Homo sapiens: one gene and its partners. The protein of the gene in region 3 interacts with the protein of the main gene of each other region in a biochemical or structural test. Each region holds a gene or a part of one and is shown on either strand. Other genes may lie near its edges. The genes, in order: SERPINB2, SERPINA5, PLAU and KAT8.

What was found.
Region 1: the proteins of PLAU (region 3) and SERPINB2 form a complex in vitro, tested with the Homo sapiens proteins (one study listed by BioGRID).
Region 2: the proteins of PLAU (region 3) and SERPINA5 form a complex in vitro, tested with the Homo sapiens proteins (2 studies listed by BioGRID).
Region 4: of the proteins of PLAU (region 3) and KAT8, one has a biochemical effect on the other in vitro, tested with the Homo sapiens proteins (one study listed by BioGRID).

Annotation. Positions count from the first base shown.
Region 1 is NC_000018.10:63,897,698-63,904,413, reverse strand, and holds the end of SERPINB2 (plasminogen activator inhibitor 2), read right to left. Parts: intron 6,688-6,716; coding exon 6,570-6,687; intron 2,675-6,569; coding exon 2,532-2,674; intron 2,011-2,531; coding exon 1,846-2,010; intron 1,514-1,845; coding exon 1,109-1,513; 3' UTR 526-1,108; downstream 1-525. UniProt on the Homo sapiens protein: Inhibits urokinase-type plasminogen activator. The monocyte derived PAI-2 is distinct from the endothelial cell-derived PAI-1.
Region 2 is NC_000014.9:94,584,426-94,591,425, reverse strand, and holds part of SERPINA5 (plasma serine protease inhibitor preproprotein), read right to left. Parts: intron 4,081-7,000; 5' UTR 4,064-4,080; coding exon 3,445-4,063; intron 1,386-3,444; coding exon 1,115-1,385; intron 678-1,114; coding exon 530-677; intron 1-529. UniProt on the Homo sapiens protein: Heparin-dependent serine protease inhibitor acting in body fluids and secretions. Inactivates serine proteases by binding irreversibly to their serine activation site. Involved in the regulation of intravascular and extravascular proteolytic activities.
Region 3 is NC_000010.11:73,906,835-73,914,143, reverse strand, and holds the start of PLAU (urokinase-type plasminogen activator isoform 1 preproprotein), read right to left. Parts: upstream 3,013-7,309; 5' UTR 2,926-3,012; exon of another isoform or gene 2,620-2,925; 5' UTR 2,589-2,619; coding exon 2,532-2,588; exon of another isoform or gene 2,253-2,531; coding exon of another isoform or gene 2,219-2,252; exon of another isoform or gene 2,104-2,218; coding exon 2,076-2,103; exon of another isoform or gene 2,049-2,075; intron 1,945-2,048; exon of another isoform or gene 1,930-1,944; coding exon 1,822-1,929; intron 1,221-1,821; coding exon 1,046-1,220; intron 855-1,045; coding exon 763-854; intron 606-762; coding exon 386-605; intron 165-385; coding exon 16-164; intron 1-15. UniProt on the Homo sapiens protein: Specifically cleaves the zymogen plasminogen to form the active enzyme plasmin.
Region 4 is NC_000016.10:31,113,308-31,120,690, forward strand, and holds the start of KAT8 (histone acetyltransferase KAT8), read left to right. Parts: upstream 1-4,356; 5' UTR 4,357-4,374; coding exon 4,375-4,585; intron 4,586-4,751; exon of another isoform or gene 4,752-5,549; intron 5,550-6,878; coding exon 6,879-6,953; intron 6,954-7,031; coding exon 7,032-7,207; intron 7,208-7,383.

The DNA of each region.
Region 1 (6,716 bases), on a different chromosome or scaffold from region 3:
TGTTCAGGCCCCCAACCTACAATTTGCCTTATTTCTCAGGTCTTCAATTATGTTCTCCTCTGCCTCTGACTCATTCAAAAGCATTACTGCTATTAGAAACAAACACACTTAGAAAGAGCCATCTTATGTTTCCCCTCCTGCTCTTGCACCCAACCCATCTCCCATCTTCACTGCTTGCAACTCTGAGCTCAATGACTGAGGCCTTCTTCTGTGTCTGGACCACTGGACTTGGTCATTAATCCTGGTGTCCTTAATGTTTAGACAGTGGTTTCCCCAAAGGACTCTAACCTAGACTATTCTGAATTGCTATGTCTTTGCTGCTGTGAGAAAGCAGCTCTAACCCATTTTTCATACAACCCCATCCCACTGACCCTCAACATTGGGTCTTTTTGAATGAAGGTTGTTATGTCCTTGGCTCCTTCATCCTGTCTATTTTTTCTGAGTTCTCACAAGTGAGTCATAATGCTCAACTCCTAGGAGTCAAGGTCTATGATCTGCAGACCTAATGAAATGACAACAAATGTATTGTTGTTTGGAAGCAGGTTTATTTATTATATACTTGCAATTGAATATAAGATACAGACATATATATGTGTTATGTATTTCTAGAAATGCACATAACATATATTTGCCTATTGTTTAATGTTTTTTCCAGATATTTATTACAGAAGGGCATGGAGGGATACCTACTTATTCTTCATTATGAGAACAATTAAAGGCATTTATTAGATAGGAAATTAACAGATCATCTGCTTCTATAACTTTATTAGCTACATTAAATAGGCAGTGAGCAATAATTTAAAAACTCACCATTATATAAAATAATAAATAACAAAGTAAAAGTTAATGTTATAAAAATAAACTGATAGTAAGGAAAATCTAAATGGGCATGATCCCATTTTAGAAGACCAAATGATTAATAGGGTTGTCATGTTATAATAGACAATTGTCTAATTATTTCTGTGTTTTTATTTAGTGGGTAGCAGAAGTTGTTCAGAAGAGCAGAAATATGTAGAAAACATCTCTAAATTTTTGGCAATTTGAAATAGCAATTCTGAGGCACACAGCTCATCTACAAAAATCTTTTGCAGAAGCAGCACGCTTAGTTTTAGGGTGAGGAAAATCTGCCGAAAAATAAAATGCAGTTGGTTATCTTATGCATAATAAGAAAAAGAAAAGGATGATCTGCCACAAACTGTGGGCCTCCATGTCCAGTTCTCCCTGTCATAACACCTCCTGTGCCAGCGGCTGCTTCAGTGCCCTCCTCATTCACATCCACCATGGCTTGGTGGAACACTTCAGAAAGAAACAGGTCATTCCTCTCCGACATCCCTGAGAAATTGGCCCGTCCCTTGTTGAAGGCGTCCTCCATGCCCATGCTTCTCAGAATGGATCTGAGTTCATAATGCTCTTCTAATTTGAACTGGGGTATGTATACCTCAACTTCATCTTCAGCCATTTTGTCTTTGCTGGTCCACTTGTTGAGTTTGTCATAGGTTATTTCACTTTCCAGCTGCAAAGCAAAACAAAACAAAACAAACAAAAGAAAATACAGCAAGTATTAGAAAGAAGGAAAACAACTTTAAGTCTAATATTAAAAATCAGTGACTTTACTATATTGTGGGTGATATAGAAAGTTAACAGATTGGTCAGATTTTTACAAGAAGGTAACACGTATGACATAGTTAAGGCTTTGAATGAAATGTAGAGGCATGCCATATTTACTATCAACTGTTTCATATATTTCCATGAGAAATTACCACACCATTTGTAAGGAGTATATATTCATCTCATCTCACGAAAGGTAGGTATAGCCCCAGAAACTTAAATATCTGAATGTCTTACCAGCTCCAAGCCAGTGGACACATCGGCAATTTCATCTGGAAGCAACAAGAACATGCTAACATCTCCAGCATATGGGAGTTCTAGAATCTGAGCCTTTAGGTCTTCTATGTATCCAATGTTTAGCTTTTCACGCAAGTACATCATCTGTACAGGTGTGCGCTGAGCCTAATATTATTAAAAGGTAAAATATGGAAGTCGATTATAAGATATCAAGAGATTTACAATTAGACATAAAGGAGGATTGGTTCTACTTTAGTGTAGGATAAATGTGATTTTTTTAAATCAACAAAATAAATTATTTGTACATCCTTACAGTGGGTACTCTGATGTTATTAGCTTGTTCAACTTTATACCCATTATTTAGTAAGATGGACAACAATGGTAATGACAACCATAATTCTAAAACACTTGTTTAGTTCTTACTATGGGCCAGGAACCGTGCCATGTCTCAATATTTACAGCCCTTTGAAATAAGTGGTAGAGCCAACGTTGGAGTCTGGGCATGTATAATTAAAAAGCCACAGTCTTCCCCTTTACCTATACTGTTTCTAAAGAGTCAATCAACTGTCCAACATGCATAACTTCTAACTAGCAAGTCTATAATGAGCGGTCTCTAATTTTTCTGTCTATATCTTGTCAAAAGCCCTAAAATATATGCTAGGAAGATGTATTTTGTTGTCTCATACCGAGTTTACACGGAAAGGATAAAGCCCATTTAGTTTCTTCTCAAATGGAGTTTTCCACTTTCCTTTGAAGTAGACAGCATTCACCAGGACCATCCTGGTATCCCCATCTACAGAACCTTCAGGTAACAAGTTTGGGATTTTGCCTACAGAAAACATAACATATATTTAGGTTTCATAATCAAGAACTGTGAAATTACTTACTGAATCTTCTGAGTAGCCATCAAACTAAATTCTTCAAATTGCAGAGTTGTTAATCTTCAAGCTAAAGTTTTTTAGGTTTATTTAAAGCAAAATTAAAATTGAAACAAATTTCCCAAAAGCTTGCAAAATCCAAGAAAAAATGAAGAAATAATGCATTTAAAATTTAGACCGCCTATCAAGTTTGGAATGGAGATTTTCACTCCCTTTTATATTCTTTTCTCAAAGCTTGGCAGTTGAAAGTTATTCAAATCAGAGGGAAGTGAAAGAGAGGTTCTTAGGGAATATAATAGTGCCTTTCCAAAATATATCATGTACTGCTAGATCTGGTCTAGATAGTCTGAGGATCTGACTTACTCATTTATTCAAAAACGTTTTGTAAAAAATATACTAGACCTAAATTAAGAGTAGTGCAGATACAAGAGATGAGAAAGGAAGAATTATCCTGGATGAGCCTAGAACACTGGGGGAGACATTCAAAATCAGTTGTGAAACCCTGTGTGATAACTTCTGTAATTGAGCTAAATAATATATTGAGTACTATGATCATACAGAGAAGGGAGTGAAGGAGTAAGCCCGAGAAGATTGACAGAAACAATGACAAATGAGTGTGGTCATTTAAAAAAATGAAATTGGTTTAAGAAGCAGTTTGTTTATAGTTAGTACTCGCTCTGCAGTATTCCAAGCATCAAAATATATTATTTTGATACTCTATTAGGTGGGTTTTATTAGTGTCATTTTATGCAAAAGGACACCACCAGGTTAGCAGTCTTCCCAACGTTACAATGCTGGTAAGCTTGTAAAAATTCTGCCTCCACAGTCAAAACTACTGACAAATACAAGACTCTTAACAAATTAATAGGTCAATGTGGTTTTGAAGTAGGAGGTGGGACCTGACTCTGGAGGCAGGTTTTAGACACCAGGCCAAATTGAGGGCTAGCTAAAATGGGGACCAGGGACAGGATGGAAGCAGTGTACCATGTCAGTTTACCATTGTGATGGCAACACCTTGGAGTTACCACCTCTTTCTGTGGCAATGACCTGATGACCCAAAAGTTATTCCCCGTTCCCTAGAAATTTCTGCGTAAACTGCCCCTTAATCTACATGTAATTAAAAGTAGGTATAAATATGACCCCCAAACTGCCCTGAGCTGTGCCTCTCAGCACAGTGCCTGGGGTAGCCCTTCTCTGCAGGAGGAATCATGGAGCTGTAATACTGCCACTTCAATAAAGCTGTTTTCTTCTACCCTACCTCCAGCTCACCCTTGAATACTTTCCTGGGTGAAGCCAAGAACCCTTGAAGGCTAAGCCCCACTTTGGAGCTTGCCTGCCTTGCATCAGTTTCATCTTCAATGTATTCATTTAATATATACATTCAATATATTTCCCAAGCTATTAAAATTTTTGGTTAGTATTGGGGTATAGTAATGTTGTGATGTATATGATAAAACTAGTATTTGATCATAGCATGATGAAACAGACAATTCTCTCCAATTCTTACAAAAGCTGGTAAAACAATCTGCCAAAATAGCTGCTTGGCATTTTGGCAAAATAACTGATTGACTTACAGCCATTTAGCACAATGTCTAAAGAGAAAAACAATTCATGCCATTCTTTAAAGAAGGCAAAACTTCCATGTGTCTCTTTAATTTTGCTCTCCATTTTTACTTGAACTTTTGATTTAAATCATCTTTCTCTGCTTCCTTTGTGTCAGTGGTCTGTCAATATTTTAGAACAGTATTTCACAAATCCACAATGAAAATGAAGAACTAAAAGGAAATCAATTATTTTCAGATAAACAAATAAATATATATTTTTTGAAATCCCATAGCACTTAGTTTATGTGCATTTTCCATTGTGGTAATTAATAAAGCAAGACACCAAACTATTTCTTGAAACAATGTCTTAAACATAAGAGTTAAATGAAAATCCTTAAAAAAATAAGTTATAAAATTTTTAAACATCCGATTGAGGAATTCTGGAGTTAGACTAAGGATCAGAAGAAGAAGCAACCCTGGCTTTACCGCTACCAGTGGGATCTTAGGGGAGCCGGCTAATCCCCTGGGAACAGGATGCTCCAACCACAAATTGGTAAGATGGATAGGAGCTCTCTTAGGACATTTTCAATCCTAACAGATCATAAATGAATGAAATACTTACACAATTCTGAATTCATAATCATCTCTGTTTCTTAGAAATACATTTATATGTTATTATTCAGCAATTGTTTACTTAAGGCCTACAACTCTACCTGGAAATTCAGAAGAATGAAGGATTTTCACTGTCAGCAAAAAACTGTGCAAATTTTTGTGGGGGCATAGGATAAGTGTGACATACTGGACCTACCCAAAAATAATTAGAGCCTGAGAGGAAAAGCAAAACAAACTAACAAAAATCAGTTCCATAATTGTTTAAGGCCATATATGGCTAACACTAATGTGACTTGTGAAGCTGAAAAAGCAGATGAGGAGATGAGAAGAAGAAAAGATCAGGAAGTAATTGGGAGTCACTTCCAGGAAAGAGTAAGACTTTGGCTGCAATTTAAACTGCAACTTAAATCCTGTAGTTGAGGCATCCTCAGAAACAAAGTCTAGAGGCAGCAATGAGTGTTTAAGGAGCTCCAAGGGCCAGTGGTAGCCAAGCACAGTCAACTGGATTACTGAGAACTCAGAAGTCAAGGTAAAGAATGAGACCTTCTCCTGAGGACAGTAGGAGGTCACTGACAGTTTTTAGTGTGGGAATAGCATAATAAGTGTACTGCATCACCTCTTTAATTTCACCTCCTTCCCTTGGCCCTCCACACTGCAGTCAGACCAGACTCTATTCTTCTCCTTAGGGTTACCTCTGGACCTTTGCATATTCTGTGCACTCTGTCTGGAAATCTCCCCCCAGGCATGCACCCTCCACCTGGCCAGCTCCAGCCTGTCTTCCCAATTACAATTTAATCATTTTTAAATCCAGTCAGATGCCTTTCCTGTGTACTCCCACATAGCACCTGTACTTCTCAATGAAAGCACTGACTACTACTCTATAGCAATTGCCAACATGACTGAATCCCTCCTCTATAGGCTCTATGGTGGCAGGATTTACCATTTTTATCTTTATCTCCACATATAGTTTCTGGAATATGGTGTGTGGTGGATAAATATTTGTTGACTAAGTGAATGAACTTAATAGAACTTAATGAATGAATGAATTCAATGAATAAATGACTTAATAAACTAAATTACAATGAATAAATGATTCAATTAAATAATTTATTCATTGTAAAATATACAGAGGGAGGCAGGAGCCTGTGAAACAATTAAAAGCATGAGTTAAAATGGTAGACGTGACTTAGATAATCAAGGAGGGATGAAGCAGAGACCAAAAAAACTTGACAATGGATTGGCTTTGAATGGTGAAAGAGAAGAAAGAGTGAAAATAATTTTATGATTCTTCCCTCCTCCACTGCCTGTATTCTTTATAGCTCACACCATTTACTAAGCTCAGGGTCAAGCCTTGTTTTCTTTTTGTCCACAGTGGGCATAGACTCACAATTATTTCAATGCTGATATTTCCTATTTTGAAAGCTTCTGCCTCCTTTCATATTCTATCCTCAAGCAATATCCAAAATCAAATATTTAAGTACTAAACATATGTCTTCTATTAGTAGGCCTCAATTATTTCTTCTCAGTTAAAACACCACTGAGCTAATCAGGAATAAATTCACATCCACCAAAGTAACTGCAGTTGGACAAATTGTAAAGGGGTGAGGGCTAACTAAGTTCATGGATGGAAAAAGATAGATCAGAGTTTTCTAACTGGAAAGAAGTAAATAAAATATTTTCTTGGATTTACCTTTGGTTTGAGTCTTGACCCAGGAATTAATCTTTTTTCTAGCTTCTTCTGCACATTCTAGGAAGTCTACTGCCTGGGGTTCTGAGGAGTAATATTTCTGACAGAGTCGAATATATTCCTTTAAAGCAAGAAAATGACAAAGGCTAC
Region 2 (7,000 bases), on a different chromosome or scaffold from region 3:
AGAGTAGAATGGAATGGAATAGAATAGAATAGAGTGGAGTGGAGTGGAGGAGTGGAATGGAGTGGAGTGGAAGAGTGGAGTGGAGGAGTGGAATGGAGTGGAATGGAAGAGTGGAGTGGATGAGTGGAGTGGAGTGGAGGAGTGGAGTGGAGGAGTGGAGTGGAGGAGTGGAGTGGATGAGTGGAGTGGAGGAGTGGAGTGGAGGAGTGGAGTGGAGATGTGGAGTGGAGGAGTAGAGTGGAGTGGATGAGAGGAGTGGAGGAGTGGAATGGAGTGGAATGGAATAGAGTGAACTGGAGTGGAGTGGAGTGGAGTGGAACTGAATAGAGTGAACTGGAGTGGAGTGGAGTGGAATTGAATAAAGTGAACTGGAGTGGAGTGGAGTGGAATTGAATAGAGTGAACTGGAGTGGAGTGGAGTGGAGTGGAGTTGAGTGGAATGGAATGGAATGAAATGGGGTAGAGTAGAATAGAAAGAATAGAACAGAATAGACCTTGGGAAGCAGATGCATAGGAGCTTCTGAACCCACCTCAGACACCTGGATATTTGAGTGGTTGCTGATGCCGGACAGATCAGCATGGGAGGTGAAGACGTTACTGATCCCCAGACTGGGGAGGACTTTCTCCAGCTGATAGGAGCCCTCAATGGAGAATTTGGGAAGGTAAAGCTCGAGCTGCCTGGAAAGGGAAAAGGAGCTTTCTTAGACTGTTCTGGGGCATTGGCACACTGAGCCTCACCCCTTGGATTCATAATGCACTGGATTCTTAGTTTTGATGGTTTTAAAAAAGGACTCCTTAACCCAAGGAACAATGGTGGTTATGGCTCCTCTGGCCTCTTTTCTAGGATGAGCCTCCCCTTGCTCTGGACTTGGACGTGGGCTGCCCAGAGGTCTCTGCCCACTCTGGCACCACCCTAAGGAACCCAGTTTCCAGCTCTTGTCCCTCCAACTGGGCTAGGCCCCCAGGACTTGGATGTCACAGGATGCCTCTGGGCCTGGAGGCAGCTCCTTGGCTGGGTGAGTCCTTCCCACCAGTGCTGTGTGGCCCTGGTAGGGCGTGTGTGTCTCCCTGGGGCTGTGTGGGTTTAGGCTGGCCCTGGGGTAGTCTGAAAGTACCTCTTTTTGAACATCTTAAGCCACTTCCTCAGCGTTTTCTCACTCAGTCCATTCTCCACCTGCTGCATCTTTCCCTCACTGGGGAGAATGAACAAAGCCGTGGCATTGCCTTGGTAGGGGACCCCCACCACCCTGCAGGAGAGGTTCCGGTCCAGGAGGTAGTGATACTGATCCTCGCGGCTCATCATGGGTACCCGCACCACAGTCTCCGAGGTCACGTAGAAGTCTTGCTCTTGGGTGCCTTTGTGGTTGAAGCTTGTCTCCCACTTAGCTAAAGATGAAAAAAGGGAAAAATGAAAAAGAATTTTGTGTCAGAATTAGAAATTCTCAGCTGCAAATAAAAGGAGTGAAGACAGTAAAGATAGCCAGCGGAGACCATCTTTATGGCAGCCCCAGAGCAGTGACTGTTGAACCTCTTGAATATGAAGGCAAGTCTCTTTATAACATTGGGCACATTCTTGGACTTTTCGTGGGACTTTTCCTTCCACATTTGCAAAACAAGGAGGTTGGTTTTCACATCTTCAGAGGCCCTGGACCCCTGATGTTCTCTGATTCTCTAACGTTTTACTCAAGACCAAATCTCCAAGTGAAGAGGGTGAAAAATGTGGCTGGCTGTGAATGCTACCTGATATCTGGGTGAACTTCTCTGTTTGCACTTTCATTCCAATATTTTGATTTAAATTTTAGAAAGAAGTTAGTATGGATCCTGGAAATGAATGGTTTTTCCCATTGGGAAGTCTTCAATGACCCTTCTCTGACCTTCCTATGGGAACTTCTGAACAAAACGCTACAAGTGATTGTTTCCAACTTCTTTTTATTTTATTTTATTTCTTTTTTTCTTTTTTTTCTTTTTTTCTTCTTTTTGAGATGGAGTCTCGCTCTGTGACCCATGCTGGAGTGCAGTGGCGCAATTTTGGCTCACTACAGCCCCCACCTCCCAGGTTCAAGTGATTCTCCTGCCTCAGCCTCCCAAGTAGCTGGAATTACAGGCGCCCACCACCATGCCTGGCTAATTTCTGTATTTTTTAGTAGAGACGGGGTTTCACTATGTTGGCCAGGCTGATCTCGAACTCCTGACCTCAGGTGATCTGCCCATCTCGGCCTCCTAAAATGTTGGGATTATAGGCGTGAGCCACCATGCCTGGCCTGTTTCCAACTTCTTAATCGTTATCGAAGGAAGACCCCAGTCAATACCGTCCTTAGCTTATTTCCCAGCTGCCCTCAGCAATCTGGTGTAATGGGGACTGCCCTGCACCAGGGGATAGGAAATCTCAGAGTCCAAGTTCGACACTCACTGCTGTGGTCTCAATGTTTGTGTCCCCACATTGTTCATATGTTGAAACCTAACCCCCAAGGTGGTGGTATTAGGACAGGGGGCCTTTGGGAGTTGATTAGGTCATGGGGGTGGAGCTGTCATGAACAGGATCGGTGTCCTTACAAAAGAGACCACAGAGAGCTGCCTTCCTCCTTCCAGCAAGGATATACTAAGAAGGCACTCTCTATGAACCAAGGAATGGGCACTGCATCTGCCAGTGCCTTGATCCTGGACTTCTCAGCCTCCAGAACTATGAGAAATATATGTTTGTTGTTGCTAAGCCACCCAGTTTATGGTATTTTGTTATAGCCACCCAAATGGCCAAAGATACTCATGATCTGTGACCATAGGAAGGGGAGGTGTTAACAATTTACCTTCCTTCGCAACCCTTCCCACCCTCTCCTCTCCTCTCTTCTCCTCTCTATCCACTCTTGCTTTCCCCAGGGTCAGCAACTGGCAGGAGCTGCAGAGGCGAGCAGGAATGCTTACAAGGAGTGTCGGGGAGATAAGCAGAGGTCAGCTCTTGCTGAGGAGTCAGGAGGAGGCATTTCAGAGGAACAAGCATTTGTCTGAGGGAGTCTTGGCCTCTATGAGGGCAGAGGGGCCAAGATCTGAGGGATACGGGGGACTGGGAAATGCCCTTTAAGCCCTTCTGGGGTCTGTGTCCTGCCCTGAGTGGCTAAGGTGTTGGTGTCTTTGCCATGGTGGCCACAATGGGTTCATACTTCAGAGCCTGTAGAAAGCTGGGGCTTCAGATGTCCCCAGGGGCCCGAAGACAGCAACCAGCTCTTCCTCCGTGGAGGAAACAGCATCTCAGCCTCACTAATCCCATCCACAGCAAGAAGGCATTCATCTTACCTTCTCTGGCTGCTTGTTTACTTAATTTTTCTCAACAGGCACCCAAAAGAACTTAACGTACTCCCCGTCTTTTATGTATGTGAGGGAATTGGGTATTCTTTAGATAAAAGCAGCAGAAAAGCCAAAGAAAGTGCAGGTTTGGGCCCAAGGGCCTTACCTTTAAAGAAGATGTAATTCACCATGATCACGACCGCATTGCTATCGAGGTTCTTAAGCAAGTCCACAATCTTGCCCTTCGTTTGCTTTGCCACATAATCATTGATCTGCTTCATGGCCCCTGCAGAGTCCCTAAAGTTGGTAGGGAAAGTGTCTGCCAGGTACAGCGTCTTCATGGCACTTACGAAGGTGTCCTGCAGGTCTACCACCAGGTCGGTGAAAAGGGCATTGCCGAGGCTCAGCTGGAAGCCATCTCTGGGCTGGTTGAGTTCCTGAAGGAGCTGCTGAAAGCCTCTGTGCAGCTCCTTCTCTGAGCTTTTCTGGAGGTTGAGGCCCAGGCCCTCCAGGATCTGCATCTTTGTGCTGGACCCAGCCCCCAGGGAGAGCATGGCCAGGCTCATGGAGATGCTCACAGGGGAGAAGAAGATGCTCTGGCTGGGGGCAGCGGAAGCCAAGGCCCTGTAGAGGTCAAAGGTAAAGTCCCTTCTGCTGCTGGGGGCCACCGTGGCACCTACATGGAGGTCCTCGACTCTCTTCTTCATCTCCCGGGGGTGGTGGCGGTGAAGGGAGGCCCCCTGAGGGCTGAGAAGCACCAGGCACAAGAGGAGGAAGAGCTGCATGGTGGCTGTTCTTTGTTCTGAAAGGGAAAGAAGGTGTCCTCAGAGAGGGGTGGAGCTGGTCCAGGTGCTGACTTTCCAGAGATGTCCCCACCCAACACTCAATGGGTATGTTTGGTCCATTCAGCTTCAAAGAGAAGGGATGGCACCCGCAAGACTGGGCATGAGGGTTTACACAGGGTGGCAGTGGCTCGAGGACAAGATTTAGGGATGACGGGGAGAGGAAGGAGGGAGAGGAGGTGCAGACCCAAGGCAGGGGTCTGGCTGCCAGGGCAGGAATCCTGTCTACCCATCCACATCAAGGGACACATTTTGGAGGATGGGATATGGAGGGAGAGGGTTCCCTCTGCTCTGCTCTGTCTCATCAGCATCTCGAGGTTACCAGGGAACTAAGCTGCTTCCATGTGAGCTTCTGGCCTTCACTCTGGTGTCCTGGTTTGGCACATGGCAGGGCGCTGTGGTCCTTCTATGAACTCAGACCAGCTACATGCCTGGGACCATCAGCACTGCTGGCCTTGCCCTGTTCATTCAGCAAACGCTGAGTGAGTGTCCACCCTGGGGTAGGCAGAATACCAGTATGCAAACTGTCCCCTTCTCCTTCCCCCAGGGGCTGCTCCATGCCACCCTTGTCCCACAGAGAGACATCTTCCCCTCCTAAAGGAATTCTGCCTGAACCTCTTCATGTGGACATCCCCACCGTCCTCCTGTTCTGGCTGAATTGTGCCCCCAAAATGCATATGCTGAAGTCCTTACCTTCAATACCCCAGAATGTGACTATATCTGGAGATAGGGCTTTTAAAGAGGGGACTGAGTTAGAATGAGGTCACTAGAGTGGGCCCCAACCCAATATGACTACGTCCTTACACAAAAATTAAAAAGAGGAGATCAGGATAGAGACATGCACAGAGGGAAGACCAGGTGAAGACAGGGAGAAGGCAGCCACCTGTGAGCCAAGGAGAGGGGCCTTGGAAGGAACAAATCCTGCTGGTGCCTTAATCTCAGACTTCCAGCTTCCAGAGTTGTAAAGAAAGAAATTTCTGTTGTTGAAGCCCCCTAGCCCCTGGGACTTTGTGACAGCAGCCCATGCAGGCAAAGACATCTTTTCATCTTCCAGATGAGGAGGCACTCATCTTTGTCTCTAGCTCTTCTCAGGGAGGCCTTTGTGGGGTCTCCCATCACTCCTGACGTGGCCTTGGCCTTCAGTCCTCCTCTTCCTCCCTCCACTTCACCCAAGAGCCGTTCCTGTGCCCATGCCTCCCCATCTGGCTACGGGTAGAAGTCTTGCCTCCTCCCTCTGCAGTAGGAAACAGCTCAGGCTCTGAAGCCACTGCCTGGGTTCAAATCTCAGCCCTGCTGTGTCCTTGTAGTGTGATTTTGGGCAAGTCAGTTACACCTTGAGCCACTGCTCCATAACTGTAAGATAGTGATAATAACAGCACCTACACCATGGGGTGCTTGGGGGCACGTGCTATGGAAGTGTGAGCAGTAGGCATGGCAGTTTCTGGCAAAAGCCCCATCTGAGGCCTCCATATTCTCAACTGTACCATAGGGTACATGCTTTACACACACACACACACACACACACACACACACACACACACGTGTGAGCCTGACAGCACCCAGGCTGGCTAATTACCAGGTGCAGAGGGCCTGCCTGGCTTCTGATGTGAGCTTTGCCCTGTGTGTCGCCTTGGAGGGAATCCCTTTCTGCTGGGCTCTCTCCATGGGCACAATGTCATCAGTGACCCCAGATCCCCACCAGGCAGGGGCAGCCTGTCACAGCATCCCGTGACCCAATTAAAACCAAACTCCAAAGGGCCCCAAACAGGTGGGTGGGAAATCCCTTGCAGAGTGGCCGTGGGGCTCAGCAGTGGAGAGAGAATGGTCTCAGGAATTGGGCAGGCTTGGACTGCAGGCCTGTCTTTAAGTGAAGTTGAATAGCTCCAGCAGGTCACCCTTGCCAGCCCAGCCTCCAAATTGTGTCCTGAGCTCCTTCCGAGAAGGAGCCTCATGTAGAAGTTTCTGCCTGCAGAATCGAACCTGGCACCAAACCCAGCAGCCACAGCAGTTGGGCGCATTGCCCGCACCCTCTTTCAGGCACTGTGCCAACTCCTTCAGCCCTGCACCACCCAAAAAGGTACATCTTGCTGCTAGCTCTATTTTACAGATGGGTAATCCGAGGTTCAGAGAGATGGAGTCGCTTGCTAACACTGGCAAAGCTTGGACTCAGACTCGGTTATCACTCTGACTCTGCAGAGTCCTGCCTCCTCTGCAGAGTCCTGCCTCCTCTTTTCCTGGCTGCATCTTCCTGATTTTGAAATCCCTGACTTAGTAGCCACCAACAATAGCCCTAATCTGCAGATAATGAGTGAGCAGAGTCTGGGCTTCCCCCCACTGACACTCCCTACCTGTTCCCACCATGGCACTTGCCTGGAGAGCTTTGAAGGACATAGGTGGGTGCTTTAATCTCCGGCTTCTCTAAATGAGTCTATTTTACAGCACAATATGGTCCCTCCTGCCAAGGGTTGGAACCAGCCATGTATGGAGATGCTTCTAAAGAAACAATGTGGCTCAACCCCCCACAGGGTCACACTGAGCTGATAATTTCGAGAACAGCTTCAGAAGCAGGGGAGTTTCCTTATTGGATACAGCCCAGGGGCAGCTGACCAGAGAGTCTCAGTGAGGCCCTGGCCTCCATTCTCCCATCTATTCAGCTACTAGGTCACCCTGGGCAAGCCTCACCCCCTCTGGGCCTCAGTTTCTTCATCTGCAGTCTGCCATGTGTTGTGGACACCCCCTCAAGACCCCGCCCCCTGCCAAGCACTAGAGATCCGATGGGGAGGAGCTGCTTCTCCGGGTGTGCACTGAGTCTCCCCCAGGATCTGTTTGGAGAGGGCCCCAGGTTCACTTAGGCTCTCCTGGGCTACATGTTTGAGACCC
Region 3 (7,309 bases):
GGGGTTCCCCCTCACCAATGTCGTTGTGGTGAGCAAGCGTGTCAGCGCTGTAGTCCTTGTGTAGGATGAGGTTTTCCACCTCAAACTTCATCTCCCCTTGCGTGTTGGAGTTAAGCCTTGAGCGACCCAGGTAGACGATGTAGTCCTCCTTCTTTGGGTAATCACTGTGGGAGAAGATACCCATCAAACAGCTTAGTCCCATGAAATCTGCCACTTCTTCCTTCCCTCCCTAGAGGCCTCAAAGCACGACTTGTCCCCAAGGCCATGGGCTGCATGGACAGGGGCAGATGAGGGAGAAATGAGGCGGAACACTTTGCTGGGAAGGAGAAAGGGATGTGCTTGGGGTGGGGCAGAAGAGTCGAAGAGGAGAAACCCAGGGCCGTACATGAAGCAGTGTGTGGCGCTGATCACCCAGCAAGGGCTGATGAGGCTGCCTCCACACACGTAGGTGACAGAGCCCCCCCGGTGCCTCCTGTAGATGGCCGCAAACCAGGGCTGGTTCTCGATGGTGGTGAATTCTCCCCCAATAATCTTAAAGCGGGGCCTCAGAGTCTTTTGGCCACACTGAAATTTTAATTCTTCTGGAGGAGAGGAGGGCTTTTTTCCTGGAGGACAAACAGAGGGATGTCTTAGGGAGGCAGGTAGGAGAAAGCATCCCTCTCGGGCACCCCCCACCTCCTCAGTCCTCCTGTGATGGAATAAGGGGACATGTAAGTTTGTCCCCTTCCACCCCACTGTCATCAGCAGGTCAGTGATGCTCACCATCTGCGCAGTCATGCACCATGCACTCTTGGACAAGCAGCTTTAGGCCCACCTGCACATAGCACCAGGGTCGCCTCCGGTTGTCTGGGTTCCTGGCAACACAGAAAGATAGGGGATGTCATTCCAACCCAGAGGGCCTTCCCTGCCTCCTCCCCTCAGGGAAGACTCAACCAGAGGCCGCACTTCTCTTGTGCTATGGCCAGCCCTCTGGGAGAAGGGGATGGTAACAAGGTTTCTGGGAAGCTGTAGGGAGGGCTTTTGGTCCTTGTTGCCCCCACCTCACCTGCAGTAATTATGTTTCCCCAGGCCCAGCTGAAGAGCATCAGATCTGTGGGCATGGTACGTTTGCTGAAGGACAGTGGCAGAGTTCCAGGGCAGGCAGGGCCGGCCCATGGTGTCAGTGCTGGCCTTTCCTCGGTAAAAGTGACCATTCCCCTCATAGCAGGTTTTTGACTTATCTACAAGGGGACAGGAGGATGAGAGAATATGAGAAAGAGAAGAACATTCCAACTAACTTTTATTTTTTTTTTTTGAGATGGAGTCTTGCTCTGTCGCCCAGTTGGAGTGCAGTGGTGTGATCTCAGCTCACTGAGATCTCTGCCTCCCAGGTTCAAGCAATTCTCCTGCCTCAGCCTCCCAAGTAGCTGGGACTACAGGCATCCACTACCATGCCAGGCTGATTTTTGCATTTTTAGTAGAGGCAGGGTTACACCATGTTGTCCAGGCTGGTCTTGAACTCCTGACCTCAAATGATCCACTCACCTTGACCTCTCAAAATGCTGGGATTACAAGCGTGAGCCACCATGCCCGGCTGCCAACGGACATTTTAAAGATGTCGTTTCAGACCTGCCAGAAGACTGGACAGGGTCTCCTTCCAACCCCACCTCACATTTGTGTGGCCACTGTTTCGTGAGCGTGTGTGTGTGTTTATGCTTGTCACATAGGGATGAAGATGTCACCCACCCTACCTCCAGCTCCTAACTCCTGCCTGCTCTTGCCTCCCACCCATCCCTCCCTGTCCCCAAATTTCTCTCCCAGTTGCAGTGGAGATCCCCATACCTATTTCACAGTGCTGCCCTCCGAATTTCTTTGGGCAGTTGCACCAGTGAATGTTGGAGAAGTACTTGTTGGACACACATGTTCCTCCATTTAGACAGTCACAGTTCGCTGGAGAGAACAAAGGTGGGGTAAGCGAGGGGGAGTGGAAGTGGTAAGGGGTGGCGCAGCCCTGCAGCAGAGGGCAGGGAGGGGATGTCCCCTGAAGCCTTCCCAACTTGTCTGTGCAGCCAACTGTTGTAGGGGTGGATACTCACATGGAACTTGATGAAGTTCATTGCTGCCCTGGAAGAGATTCGGGAGGAGGCTTCATCAAAGGTCCCATGCTCCAGGGACTCCAGGGTGAGGGTAAACTGGCCCCAATCCCAAAACCCACTCTTCCCTCTCCCTCTCGCCTCACCCTGTTCGTATCTAGTTCTCAAATGGAAGACCATGGGTTTCCAGCCAGGAGAAATGGATTGACCCAAGCAAGCTTCATCTACCAGATGCCCGCAGGCTGGGGCAGTCCCGGCGGCCTCTTCCTCCCTTGCCAGCCAGTGCCAACCCCCGTGGTTCTCAAGCCTCCGCTGCCACCCTGTCCCATTTCCTGGGGAGAGTCTGGCCCTGCTGTGGATGGAATCCGGAGGACCCCAGCTCCCTGAGCAGCCCCTCCTCTCCCCTGGTGCTGATCAGAGGTCCTTGGGCAGCATCAGTCAAAGCAAGAGCGCACTCACTTTGGAGTCGCTCACGACCAGGACGCAGAGAAGCAGGCGCGCCAGCAGGGCTCTCATGGTGGCGAGGTCGGGGCGCTAGACGGCGGCTCTGCAAAGGAAGGAGAAGTCAGGGCAAGAGGCGGAGGAACGGGAAGGCAGGCCAGGCGGGCGACTGCAGCGCAGGGGAGATGCCCGCGGTGACCAGGCTCCCCAGCTGTCTCTCTCCTCTCTGGGCTCCGGACTCCGGGCAGCCTGGATCGGCACCCGCGGGGGACGCCCGGGACGGGGCGCCTTGACTCCGTGCAGCCGCCGGGGAGCCCAGGGAGCCCGGGCAGCCCAGGGCGGGGGAGGCAGACGCTCGGGAGCTGGGGCCGCCGCGCATCCGGCCCGGGGATCTCAGGACCGCGGCACTCACCGGTGGCTGCGGCAGGAGGGCGCGAGCCGGCGCTGCGGGGACAGGTGGACCCTGGCCCGGGCTCCGGGGCTGCGGTCTCCGCACTGTGCTGCGACCCGCGGCGCCTGCTCTATATCAGGGCCCGCCCCGGCGCCGCCCCTCCCTCTCCCGCCCGGCTCCCTCCCCTGTCTTGCAGCGCTCAGCGACCCGGACCCCGCGTGCTTCCGCAACGCTCACAAAGATTTGGGGGAAGCGCGATCTCCAGCGGAGGGGACCCAACAGCGTCTGGACTGAGGAATCGAGAGGCTTGTAAATTCTCCGTGCTTCCTCCCATGCACCTGGCCGGGGGCCTGCCCCAGTGCAAGGAGTCCCCGAATTGCAGAGAGGAGAGAAGGCGCACAGGAGACTCTCTACCTCGCCCAGCTCTGAAGCCTCCTGGGGTCCTCTAATCAGTTCTTCTGCAACTTCTCCCCGCTGGGCCCCAACTTGCCTAAGACTGCCTCAGACCCCCTTGCCCGCAGCTGATGGAGCTGTGAAGTCTTCATCAACGCGACAAATGTACGAGACATACTCTCCCAGAAGCACAGACAGAAAAACCCCTGCCTGTAGGGGCTCCCTCTGTGCGTCTGTTCAGTGGCAGTCCCCAGATATCACCAACACAACCAGTGGATGGAACAAAGCCGGGCTTATTGCTTTCGGCAGTAAGGGGGTTTGTTTGATGGTGCTATCAGAGGGGGAAAGGCAAGGCCAGATTACTGAAAATTTGCAGCTTGGTTTAAAGTCCGTTTTTGACAGGGCTTGATAAGGATTGGGTTAGGTGTCGTGATATGATGTTACAGGATTGTGGGAACAAAGTCCTAGGGCATAAACTGTTGGTGCTTCCTATTGAAGTGTTAACGGGTCTTTTGGGAAGTTTCCATAATGAGCAATTCATTTATTTGTGCAGGCAAGAATAAAAGTAAAGACAATGGAAACATGTAGACAGTTCTAACTGTGGAGGTTCTGGAGGGTGTGGAAGTTCTGTTCTCACCTCTGAGTAGAGGAATTGGGAGACTGGAGGACAAAATAAGAGGAAGATTTATTTTTCACTGTTTGTCCTTTTACACTCTTAACATTTTAAAAAGCACATCTCTGTATAGCCCATTCCAAAAAGATAATTATGCATTTTTTAATGCATGTGTATTTAGTGTTTTACTTCATCATAGAGCCTTGTTTATTCTATTCAGATAGAAACAATTGTTTATCAAATAAAATTGTCCTCCAGAAAAACAGACCATGTGTAAATGACTGCATCCACCCTTCCTGCCTGAGGATAAGCAGACATTTGTGTATACACACACACACACACACGCATCTCTGGGCACACTTGGAGGAACATAGCAGGGATTCTGTGATTCTGTCACCCCCATCTCTTTCCCCTAGTGTCAGGAACCAGGGCTTGGGGTCATTTTGAACCCAGTAGGACTCGCTCTCTTAGTGGGAAGGAGGAGGCTGAGTCCCAGCAATCCACTAGCGGCTTTGGGCCCTTTCCCAGCCTAGGCCTGCAGCATTTTCCTGCCTTGCAAATCTGGACCTTGGGTCTGGGTCCACCTGAGAGTGACAGAAGGAAGGCAGGGAGAGTGCCAGGAAGGTAGGAAGGAGGAAGGCTCCTTTGCTCTGCCCCAGCCGAGGGCTCAGGGTGCCAGCTGCCTGCTGGGGAAAGTACAAGTTAGCCTTTCAGCTTTTGGGAGGCAGGTGACCCACTGTCTTCTGGAGAGACTTCTGTGCTTGCTGAGCTGCCAGCCTTCCAGGGGACAGACTGAGTCAGCGATGCTATAGGCTTCAGAGCCAACCTTGCTACTTCCTCTAGAAGACTGTGGTCAGTTTTGTTTGGATTTGAGAACCCATTAATTGTAAATAAACGTGACCAGAACATAAACAGAGATGCTGCAGCCTGAGGACTTACCCCGAAACTCCCAGGTTAGTTATCAGGAAATTCCCAGGGACCGTCATGATTCATGTTGCTCCCCTAGCAGCTCTCATGACTCCAGATTACTTGGCTGGAGGCTGTCATGCTGATTGCTGAGAGCAGATGACTTCATTTCCTCCTGGACAAAGAGGTTTGGAGACCGTTATGAAGCGTGACACCCTTTCTCCCCTTCCGCCCCCTCCTCCCCCGTGCCACCTCTTCACCTAGCACTTCAACTCTTCACAGAACTTCCTTATCCATGCGCTAATCTTTAGCACTCTCTGAAATCTTTGTGCACAGTTCTTTTTTTTTTTTAAAGACAAGGTTTTGCTGGGCTTCTGGGTTCAAGGGGTCCTCCCACCTCATCCTTCCAAAGTGCTGGGATTACAGGCATGAGCCACCACGCCCAGCCATATTTTTTTTTTTTTTTTTTTGAGACGGAGTCTCGGTCTGTCACCCAGGCTGGAGTGCAGTGGCACAATCTCGGCTCACTGCAAGCTCCGCCTCCCGGGTTCACGCCATTCTCCTGCCTCAGCCTACCGACTAGCTGGGACTACAGGCGCCTGCCACCACACCCGGCTAATTTTTTGTATTTTTAGTAGAGATGGGGTTTCACCGTGTTAGCCAGGATGGTCTCGATCTCCTGACCTTGTGATCCGCCCACCTCGGCCTCCCAAAGTGCTGGGATTACAGGCGTGAGCCACCGTGCCCGGCCCCAGCCATATTTTTTATATTGTATTTCTGTCTTGTGCTTCAAGGCACATTAATGTAAACCATTTCTCTTTAAACTCATAACTGCCTTATGATATAGACTGGTATTGTTGTTCCCATTTTGCAGATATGGAAAATGAAGTGGAGAGAAGATACACAGTTGATGAGCAGCAAAGCCAGCACTAAAACCCAGCGTCTTCTGATCCTTGTTCCTATGCGCTATACCTCACTGTCTCCATAAAAGACAGAACGCTGTGAAGGGAGGGGCCAGTGAGCTAAGATGATCCAGCTCAGGGGAGCCCTCCTCCTGACTTTGGAGACCTCCTTCCAGAAAGACTGCTCGGACTATGGACTCTGAGCTCTTAAGTTGCACCCGCTGTAATACAAATTAGTTGTTTGCCTGAATTCCAAGAACTGTCTCTGTGGTCTAGGCTGTCTGAAATTTCTGTTGAGGGTAAGAGAATAAGGAACTGAATGTGTATGATTTCATTCTTTTCCTGACTCCTAGGGTGAAGCCACCAACCCCTGCCTCTGTGTCTCAAGGGTACAGAGCTCCTGAGTCAGATGTGGCAACACAGACTGCTGGAGAAGCCCTTTCCAGGAGATTCTCATAAAAGGGAAGGCAGATGCCAGATGCGCAGGGAGGGGCAGGGTATCCAAACCTGGCCCTGAGACTAAGTCCAGGAAACTCAGCCCCTAAGGACTATTTTCTGACCCAAAAGGAAGTTCCCATGGAGTCATAGGATGCAATTCTGTGTTGTATATGAAGAATGCTCAGCATGGCACTATAGAAAGACCACAGTGCCTAGCCTTCAGTCTGCTACATCAAAGTTGAATGATCTTAGGCAAGTTGCTTAACTCTTTTTTTTTTTTTTTTTTTTTTTGACGTGGAGTCTCGCTCTTGTCACCCAGGCTGGAGTGCAATGGTACAATCTTGGCTCTCTGCACCCTCCACCTTCTGGGTTCAAGCAATTCTCCTGCCTCAGCCTCCCAAGTAGCTGGGATTACAGGTGTCTGCCACCATGCCGGTCTAATTTTATATTTTTAGTAGAGATGGGGTTTCACCATGTTGTCCAGGCTGGTCTTGAACCCCTGACCTCAGGTGATCCACCTGTCCAGCCTGTGCCTCACTCTGCAGATTGGCTGAGATCATGCTTGCATGTAAAAGTATTCATTCATTCCATATTTATCATGGACCTACTGTGTGCTGGGCGCAGTTCTGGATGCTAGAGATAGGAAGAGGAACTGTGTAAACTGTAATTCCTACATCGAGTGCCTGCCTCCCCTTTTTGACTGTGGCTGGATTGACTCAGAAGACCAAGTCAGGCTGGAGTCCATTCCAGGATTCCAGGCCAATGGGGATGCTGTATCCTTGGCCAGCAGTTCCCAGCAATCAGGCAGCTGGACCCACAGCTGCATGTGCTGTTCACTCCCACATTGCCTATGCTTACTCCCTCTCCCTCTTGTCTGTGTCCCTGTGTGGCCTGAAGCGCCTCTTTCCCTCCTACACATGGGGCAGACGGACTCTTCAACAGTTCTGGGAAGGAGGTACGGAATGCTGGTCACATAGCTTCCTTGAGTCTAAGGACCCCTTCTTCCTGAGTGTCTAGTGTGAAGGGTGAAGCCAGCTGGCAACGGCAGGCACTGAAAGCCGCTTCTGGGCATGTAACATGATAGGGGGATTGCTGGAGCTGCAGGCCCCCAGCAGGCTGTGGAAGGGGTGGAGGGAGGCAGCATTCTTGCTTC
Region 4 (7,383 bases), on a different chromosome or scaffold from region 3:
GGGAAGTTGTATGTGGAAGCCAAATGGCAGGGGCTAGGAAACCACAGTGACTTGCTAGACTGAAAAATCCCGCCAGCTGCAAGGCAGGGTGCTGAGGCTGGAGAGGCAGGCAGCAGTCAGAGGCCAGGGCCCTGAAACATGGGATTTATCTTGAGCCATAGGGATCCATGGGTGAGTTTTTATTTATTTAGAAATGGGGTCTTGCTCTGTTGCCCAGGCTGGAATATGGTGGCTGCAGAGTTCACTGCAGCCTTGAACTCCTGGGATCAAGAGATTCTCCCACCTCAGCCTTCTGAGTAGCTTGGACCATCATGCCAGGCTAAATTTTAAAATTTTTTGTAGAAACAGGGTTTCTACAAAGCCCTATGTTGCCCCGGGCTGGACTTGAACTTCTGGGCTCAAATGATCCTTCCACCCCAGCCTCCCAAAGTGGTGGGGTTACAGGCATGAGCCACTGCAGCTGGCCCATGAGTGGGTTTTGAGCTGGGAAGGGATGTTTCTGGTTGGAGTCCCTGAGAGGATTCATGTCCACGTGATTTCTTAAGAAAGTGCTCCCAGAACAGAGTAGGGGAAGTAGGAAGGGGAAGGGGAGGAAGCCAAGCAAGGATGTGACCTCAGGCAAAAGCCCAGAACCAGTCAATTATGCCTCAGGGTTGAAGGTAAGAGAGCTAAACCTCAGAGTTACTGATTAATTTCTCCACTTGGCAGTCACTGGTTAAAGTCAGTTGGGAAAGTGAACAGCTCTATTAACCTAAGGATGGTTTTTTAAGAAGAGCCTCAGGTGCTGGTGTGGGTCTTTGAAAGCACATCAAAGGTAATCTGGGCACACAGAAACAGCAAGAACTCCCAGAGGATCTGGGTGGAGCACCTACATTGTTTTTTTGTTTGTTTTGTTTCGTTTTGTTTTTTTAAACGGAGTCTCAATCTGTTGCTCAGGCTGGAGTGCAGTGGCTGGATCTTCGCTCACTGCAACCTCCGCCCCACCCCCCCCCAACCCCAGGTTCAAGCGATTCTCCTGCCTCAGCCTCCCGAGTAGCTGGGATTACAGGCGCGTGCCACCACACCCAGCTAATTTTTCTATTTTTAGTAGAGATGGGGTTTCACCACGTTGGCCAGGCTGGTCTCGAACTCCCAACCTCGTGATCCATCCACCTCAGCCTCCCAAAGTGCCAGGATTACAGGCATGAGCCACCATGCCTGTCGGATGTTTCTTGATTTGTAACCTCTGAGAGACCCATCCGCAGGCCCTGAGCATTCCACTCCTCTCAGAATTGTTTCCAAGCCCAATAACCACATTATAAATCAAACAAGATTCAGAGAATAGCCAAAGGGAATGTTTACTGAGTACCTACCCGGTCTGGCACTTTGCAATACACTTGTATATTGCTAAGACGGATAGTTCAACCGTTACATAGTTATATGATTGATAGTTATACATGCTTAACTGCTGGGGATTGGTTCCAGGACCGCCTGTGAATACCGAAATCTGCAGGCGCTCAAGTCCTACAGTTGGCCCTGCCAAACAGCAGATATGAAGTCAGCTCTTCAGATCTGTGGGTTCTGCATCCTTACAATATTTCCTTTCCTTTCCTTTTCTTTTCCTCCCTTCCTCCCTCTTTTTTCTTTTTCTTTTTTGAGATGGAGTCTTGTTGTGTCGGCCAGGTTGGAGTGCAGTGGCGCGATCTCGGCTCACTGCAACCTCCACCTCCTGGGTTCAAGCAGTTCTCCTGCCTCAGCCTCCCAAGTAGCTGGGATTACAGGCACACGCCACCACCCCTGACTGTTTTGTATTTTCAGTAGAGACGGGGTTTCACAATGTGGGCCAAGCTGGTTTTGAACTCCTGACCTCAAGTAATCCACCTGCTTCGGCCTCCCAAAGTGCTGGGATTACAGGTGTGAGCCACCGCGCCCAGTCTTTTTTTTTTTTTTTTTGAGGCAGAGTTTCACTCTTGTTGCCCAGGCTGGAGTGCAATGGCACAATCTCAGCTCACCACAACCTCTGCCTCCCAGGTTCAAGCGGTTCTCCTGCCTCAGCCTCCCGAGTAGCTGGGATTACAGGCATGCGGCCACCACGCCTGGCTAATTTTGTATTTTTAGTAGAGATGGGGTTTCTCCATGTTGGTCAGGCTGGTCTCGAACTCCCGACCTCAGGTGATCTGCCTGCCTCGGCCTCCCAAAGTGGTGGGATTACAGGAGTGAGCCACTGCGCCCAGCCTCCTTTTCTTTCCCCCCTTTTTTTTTGAGACAGGGTCTCTGTCACCCAAGCTGGAGTGCAGTGGAGGGATTATAGCTCACTCAGCCTCGACCTCCTGGGTTTAAGCGATCCCTCTGCCTCAGCCTCCTGAGTAGGTGGGACTACAGGTGCGGGCCCCGAGGCCCAGCTAATTTTTTTTTTCCCCCAAATTTTTAGTAGAAAGGAGGTCTCTATGCTGCCCAGGCTGGTCTTGAACTCCTGGCCTGAAGCGATCCTCCTGCTTGGATTCCTGAAGTGCGAGATTACAGGTGTGAGCCACCATACCTCAACACTGTATTTTCAACCCGCTCTTCGTTCAATCTCCAAAGGTGGGACATGCGGATATGGAGGGCCGATTGTGTATGGTTGGACCATACACATATAAATGGCTTTAACCTTTACTGACTCTCACAGAACCCTCAGTGCAGTGGCGTGATCTCAGCTCACTGCAAGCTCCACCTCCCGGGTTCACACCATTCTCCTGCCTCAGCCTCCCGAGTAGCTGGGACTACAGGGGCCCGCCACCACGCCCGGCTAATTGTTTTGTATTTTTTTTTAGTAGAGACGGAGTTTCATCGTGTTAGCCAGAATAGTCTCGATCTTCTGACCTCGTGATCCACCCGCCTAGGCCTCCCAAAGTGCTGGGATTACAGGCGTGAACCACCGCACCCGGCCTTTTTATTTTTTTTGAGATGGAGTCTGGCTCTTGGTCCCCAGGCTGGAGTGCAATGGCGGGATCTCGGCTCACTGCAACCTCCGCCTCCCGGGTTCAAGCGATTCTCCTGCCTCAGCCTCCCGAGTAGCTGGGACTACAGGTGCGTGCCACCACGCCCGGCTAAATTTTGTATTTTTAGTAGAGACGGAGTTTCACGGTGTTAGCCAGGATGGTCTCGATCTCCGCCCGCCTCGGCCTCTCAAAGTGCTGAGATTACAGGCGTGAGCCACCACGCCCCGCCCAACTCGTCCTTTCTTTAGACTTTATCCTGTGAGGGTGAATTATGGCCTGTCCCTGGACACACCCGTTCTGCTTTCCCCGCACCAACTGTATCCCAAATAGGGGAAGTAGTCTCTTCAACCTTCAAAAATGGGGCACTGGCTGGGCACGGTGGCTCACGCCTGTAACCCTAGCACTTTGGGAGGCCGAGGCGGGCGGATCACCTGAGGTCAGGAGTTCGAGACCAGCCTGGCCAACAGGGTGAAGCCCTCTCTCTACTAAAAATACAAAAAATAGCCGGGCGTGGTGGCGCGCGATTGTAATCCCAGCTATTCAGGAGGCTGAGGCAGGAGAATCGCTTGAACCCGGGAGGCGGAGGCTGCAGTGAGCCGAGATCGCGTCACTGCACTCCAGCCTGGGCGACAGAGCGAGACTCCATCTCAAAAAAAAAAAAGGGGGGGGGGCGGGGAGCGACATTAGGCCAGCGCGAGTGTGCGGCTCCAGGCCACCAGGGCGGCCGCTCTGGCTCTGCCCTGTTAAAGTGGGGGCAGCGCCCGCTGAAAATTGGCACATCTTGGCTTCCGCAGGTACCAGGGCCTTTAAAAAGGTTCAGCTGGCCGGGCACGGTGGCTCACGCCTATAATCCCAGCACTTTGGGAGGTTGAGGCTGGCAGATCACGAGGTCAAGAGATCAAGACTATCCTGGACAACATGGTGAAACCCCGTCTCTACTAAAAATACAAAAATTAGATGGGCGTGGTGGCGCGCGCCTGCAGTCCCAGCTACCCGGGAGGCTGAGGCAGAGGAATCGCTTGAACCCGGAGGCGGAGGTTGCAGTGAGCCGAGATCGCGCCTCTGCACTCCAGCCTGGGCGACAGAGCATGATTCCGTCTCAAAATAAATAAATAAATAAATAAATAAATAAATTAAAAAAAGGTTGAGTTGAGTCATCGCATGAGGTAAGTCTGTCTCCTCTCCTCACCCATAGGCTGCAGCCACAGGTCCGCACGGAAAACCAGGAGCTCCAAGACTGCCGCACACTCAACATCCAACTCGCGGGGCCGCGGGGACGGCCACAGAAGCCAATCGGCTCCTGCTACATCACAGACCCCGCCCTCAAACCTTGAGGAGCCCGCCCCACGCACTGCTGACCCGGAGCCAAAAGAACTGCGTGGCGTCCGATTCTGGCGTCACTTCCCTTCCCGCGATGGCGGCACAGGGAGCTGCTGCGGCGGTTGCGGCGGGGACTTCAGGGGTCGCGGGGGAGGGCGAGCCCGGGCCCGGGGAGAATGCGGCCGCTGAGGGGACCGCCCCATCCCCGGGCCGCGTCTCTCCGCCGACCCCGGCGCGCGGCGAGCCGGAAGTCACGGTGGAGATCGGAGAAACGTACCTGTGCCGGCGACCGGATAGCACCTGGCGTGAGGGCGGGGCCCAGGGCTGGGGGCGGGGCGGAGCTCAGGGCCAGGGGGTGGGGCGGGGCCTGAGGACAGGCTGTCAGTGAGGCCAAGATCCGGGGGCTGGGAGTGGAGAGGAGGAGGGGCGGGGCTTGAGGAAAGAACGCCGCGTTCCGGGCGCTGAGAAACCAGCCGGGTTGTGGGAGGCTGTTGACCTTGAATTATGCCGAGCGACGCCTACAAACCCACCGCTCAGGCCTTCACCAGGATTGTTCCCATTCCACTTCCTTGCCCAGTCTTAGGCTTCATTCCTTTTTCTTGCTAACGCTGCTTCCTCACCCTCTCTTGTCTCTGCGTCTTCTTTTTCCATTTGTCCCTGGCAGCCATCCGCAGAGAGAAGACCTTCCAGAAACAACAGGCTTCCCTTTCCTAAAGTTCTGCTGCCTTCTCTCATTTTCAAAATTAACCCCAAACTCCTTAGGGTGGCATTCATTTTTGTGACCTCTCCAGTTTCTAGCCAACACTAGGAAAGGGCATTGCCAGGCCAGAACACACTGTGCCCTCTGAAGACCACACGCCCTTTACCACCTGTGCCCTTTGCTTGGAATGCTTTTTCTTCCCTTTCTCCTTGTTTGCCTGCCTAGCTCCTACTCATCCTCTTAGCTTCATATCCTTTGTGATGTCATCCTTGATTCCCCTTCAGGCAAAGTGAGTGGTTCCCTTCTCTATGTTCCTGCAACATTTTTTTCCTACCTCAGTCATAGTTTTTGTAACATTATGTTGTAATTTTCTCTCTCTGTCTTCCTCCATCATACTGGGAACTTCTGGAGGGCAGCACTTCTTGTGATTCATCACTGTGTCCTCTGTACCCGGCAACAACACAGCATAGGGCCAGACACGTAGTGGTTGCCTTACTCATTTATTGAATGCTCTGCTAATTGTCAGGTGCGCTGCTAAAAATTTTGGAGGCATTAATTCACCTTCTAAGGTTGGTACTATTATCCCTTTTGTCTTTTTTTTTTTTTTTTTTTTTGAGACAGGATCTCGCTCTGTCACCCAGGTGGGATTGCCGTGGCACGATGACAGCTCACTGAAGCCTAGACCTTCTAGGCTCAAGTGATCCTCCCACCTCACCCTCTCAGAGTGTTGGGATTACTGGCATGAGCCACTGTGCCCAGCTGTTATCCCTTTTCACAGATGAAGAGACTGAGGCTCAGAAAGATGGAATAACTTGCTCAGTTACACATAGCTAGGAAGTAGGGAGCTGGAATTTTGTGTATTTTTTTTTGTTTGTTTGTTTGAGATGGAATCGCTCTCTGTTGCCAGGCTGGAGTGCAGTGGCGCCATCTTGGCTCACTGCGATCTCTGCCTCCCGGATTCAAGCGATTCTCCTGCCTCAACCTCCTGAGTAGCTGGGACTACAGTTGTGCGCCACCACACCCAGCTAATTTTTGTATTTTTAGTAGAGACGAAGTTTCACCATGTTGGCCAGGATGGTTTTGACCTCTTAACCTCGTGATTCACCCACCTCGGCCTCCCAAAGTGCTGGGATTACAGGCGTGAGCCACGATGCCCAGCCCTGGAATTATACATTAATGTAGGTTATCTTAATCCAGAGCCAGCACTCATGATCCCTGAACAAATGAACAACTGCGGGTATGTGGTAAAATGAGCATTGAATTTAGAGTCAGACTTAAATTCAGTTAAGTATTAGCTCTTACCACTTTTCAAATCTGTGACCCTAGGTAAGCCTCAGTTTTGTTCTGTTTTTTGGGGTTCTTTTTTTTGAGACAGAGTCTTGCTCTTGTCACCCAGGCCACAGTGCAGTGGTACAATCTCGGCTCACTGCAACCTCTGCCTCCCGGGTTCAAGCAATTCTCCTGCCTCAGCCTTGCCTCCCAGGTTCAAGCAATTTTCCTGCCTCAGCCTCCCGAGTAGTTGGGATTACAGGTGTGTGCCACCATGCCTGGCTTTTTTTTTTTTCGTCTTTTTGGTACAGATGGGGTTTTGCCATGTTGACCAGGCTGGTCTCAAACTCCTGGCCTCAAGTGATCTGCCCATCTCGGCCTCCAGAAGTACTGGGATTACAGGTGTGAGCCACACACCCAGCCAGTTATTTTCTCATTCGTAAAATGAGAATAACAGCCTCAACCTGATCCACCTCACAGTTGTGGCAGTGATTGAGTAGAATGGCAGAGGTGGACCAGTGAGGTTAGCTGATGTGTGGCCCTGAACTCTGGAAACTGCTTCTCAGTGTGCAGGATTCCTTTTGTTCCAGCCTTACCTTCCTGATGACCCTAGCCTTTTTCCATCACAGATTCTGCTGAAGTGATCCAGTCTCGAGTGAACGACCAGGAGGGCCGAGAGGAATTCTATGTACACTACGTGGGCTGTGAGTGGCTTGGCACATCTGGGCGTGGGTGCAGGGAGTTGGCTGCCCTGGCAGCACTCTTATGGCCCATACTTACAGTTAACCGGCGGCTGGACGAGTGGGTAGACAAGAACCGGCTGGCGCTGACCAAGACAGTGAAGGATGCTGTACAGAAGAACTCAGAGAAGTACCTGAGCGAGCTCGCAGAGCAGCCTGAGCGCAAGATCACTCGCAACCAAAAGCGCAAGCATGATGAGATCAACCATGTGCAGAAGGTCCGGATCCCTTCCCATCCACGGGCCCAGGAGGCCCAGCTTCTCTGCCAGTTCCCTTGGGTCTCTCGGGCCCCAGTGCCAAAACCATAGCAAATCCCATTTCTTAAGCTCCTGTAGTGTGTCAGGGACTTTACCTACTTCCTCTTACTTACTTTTCATAGGTAAGAAAACAGACA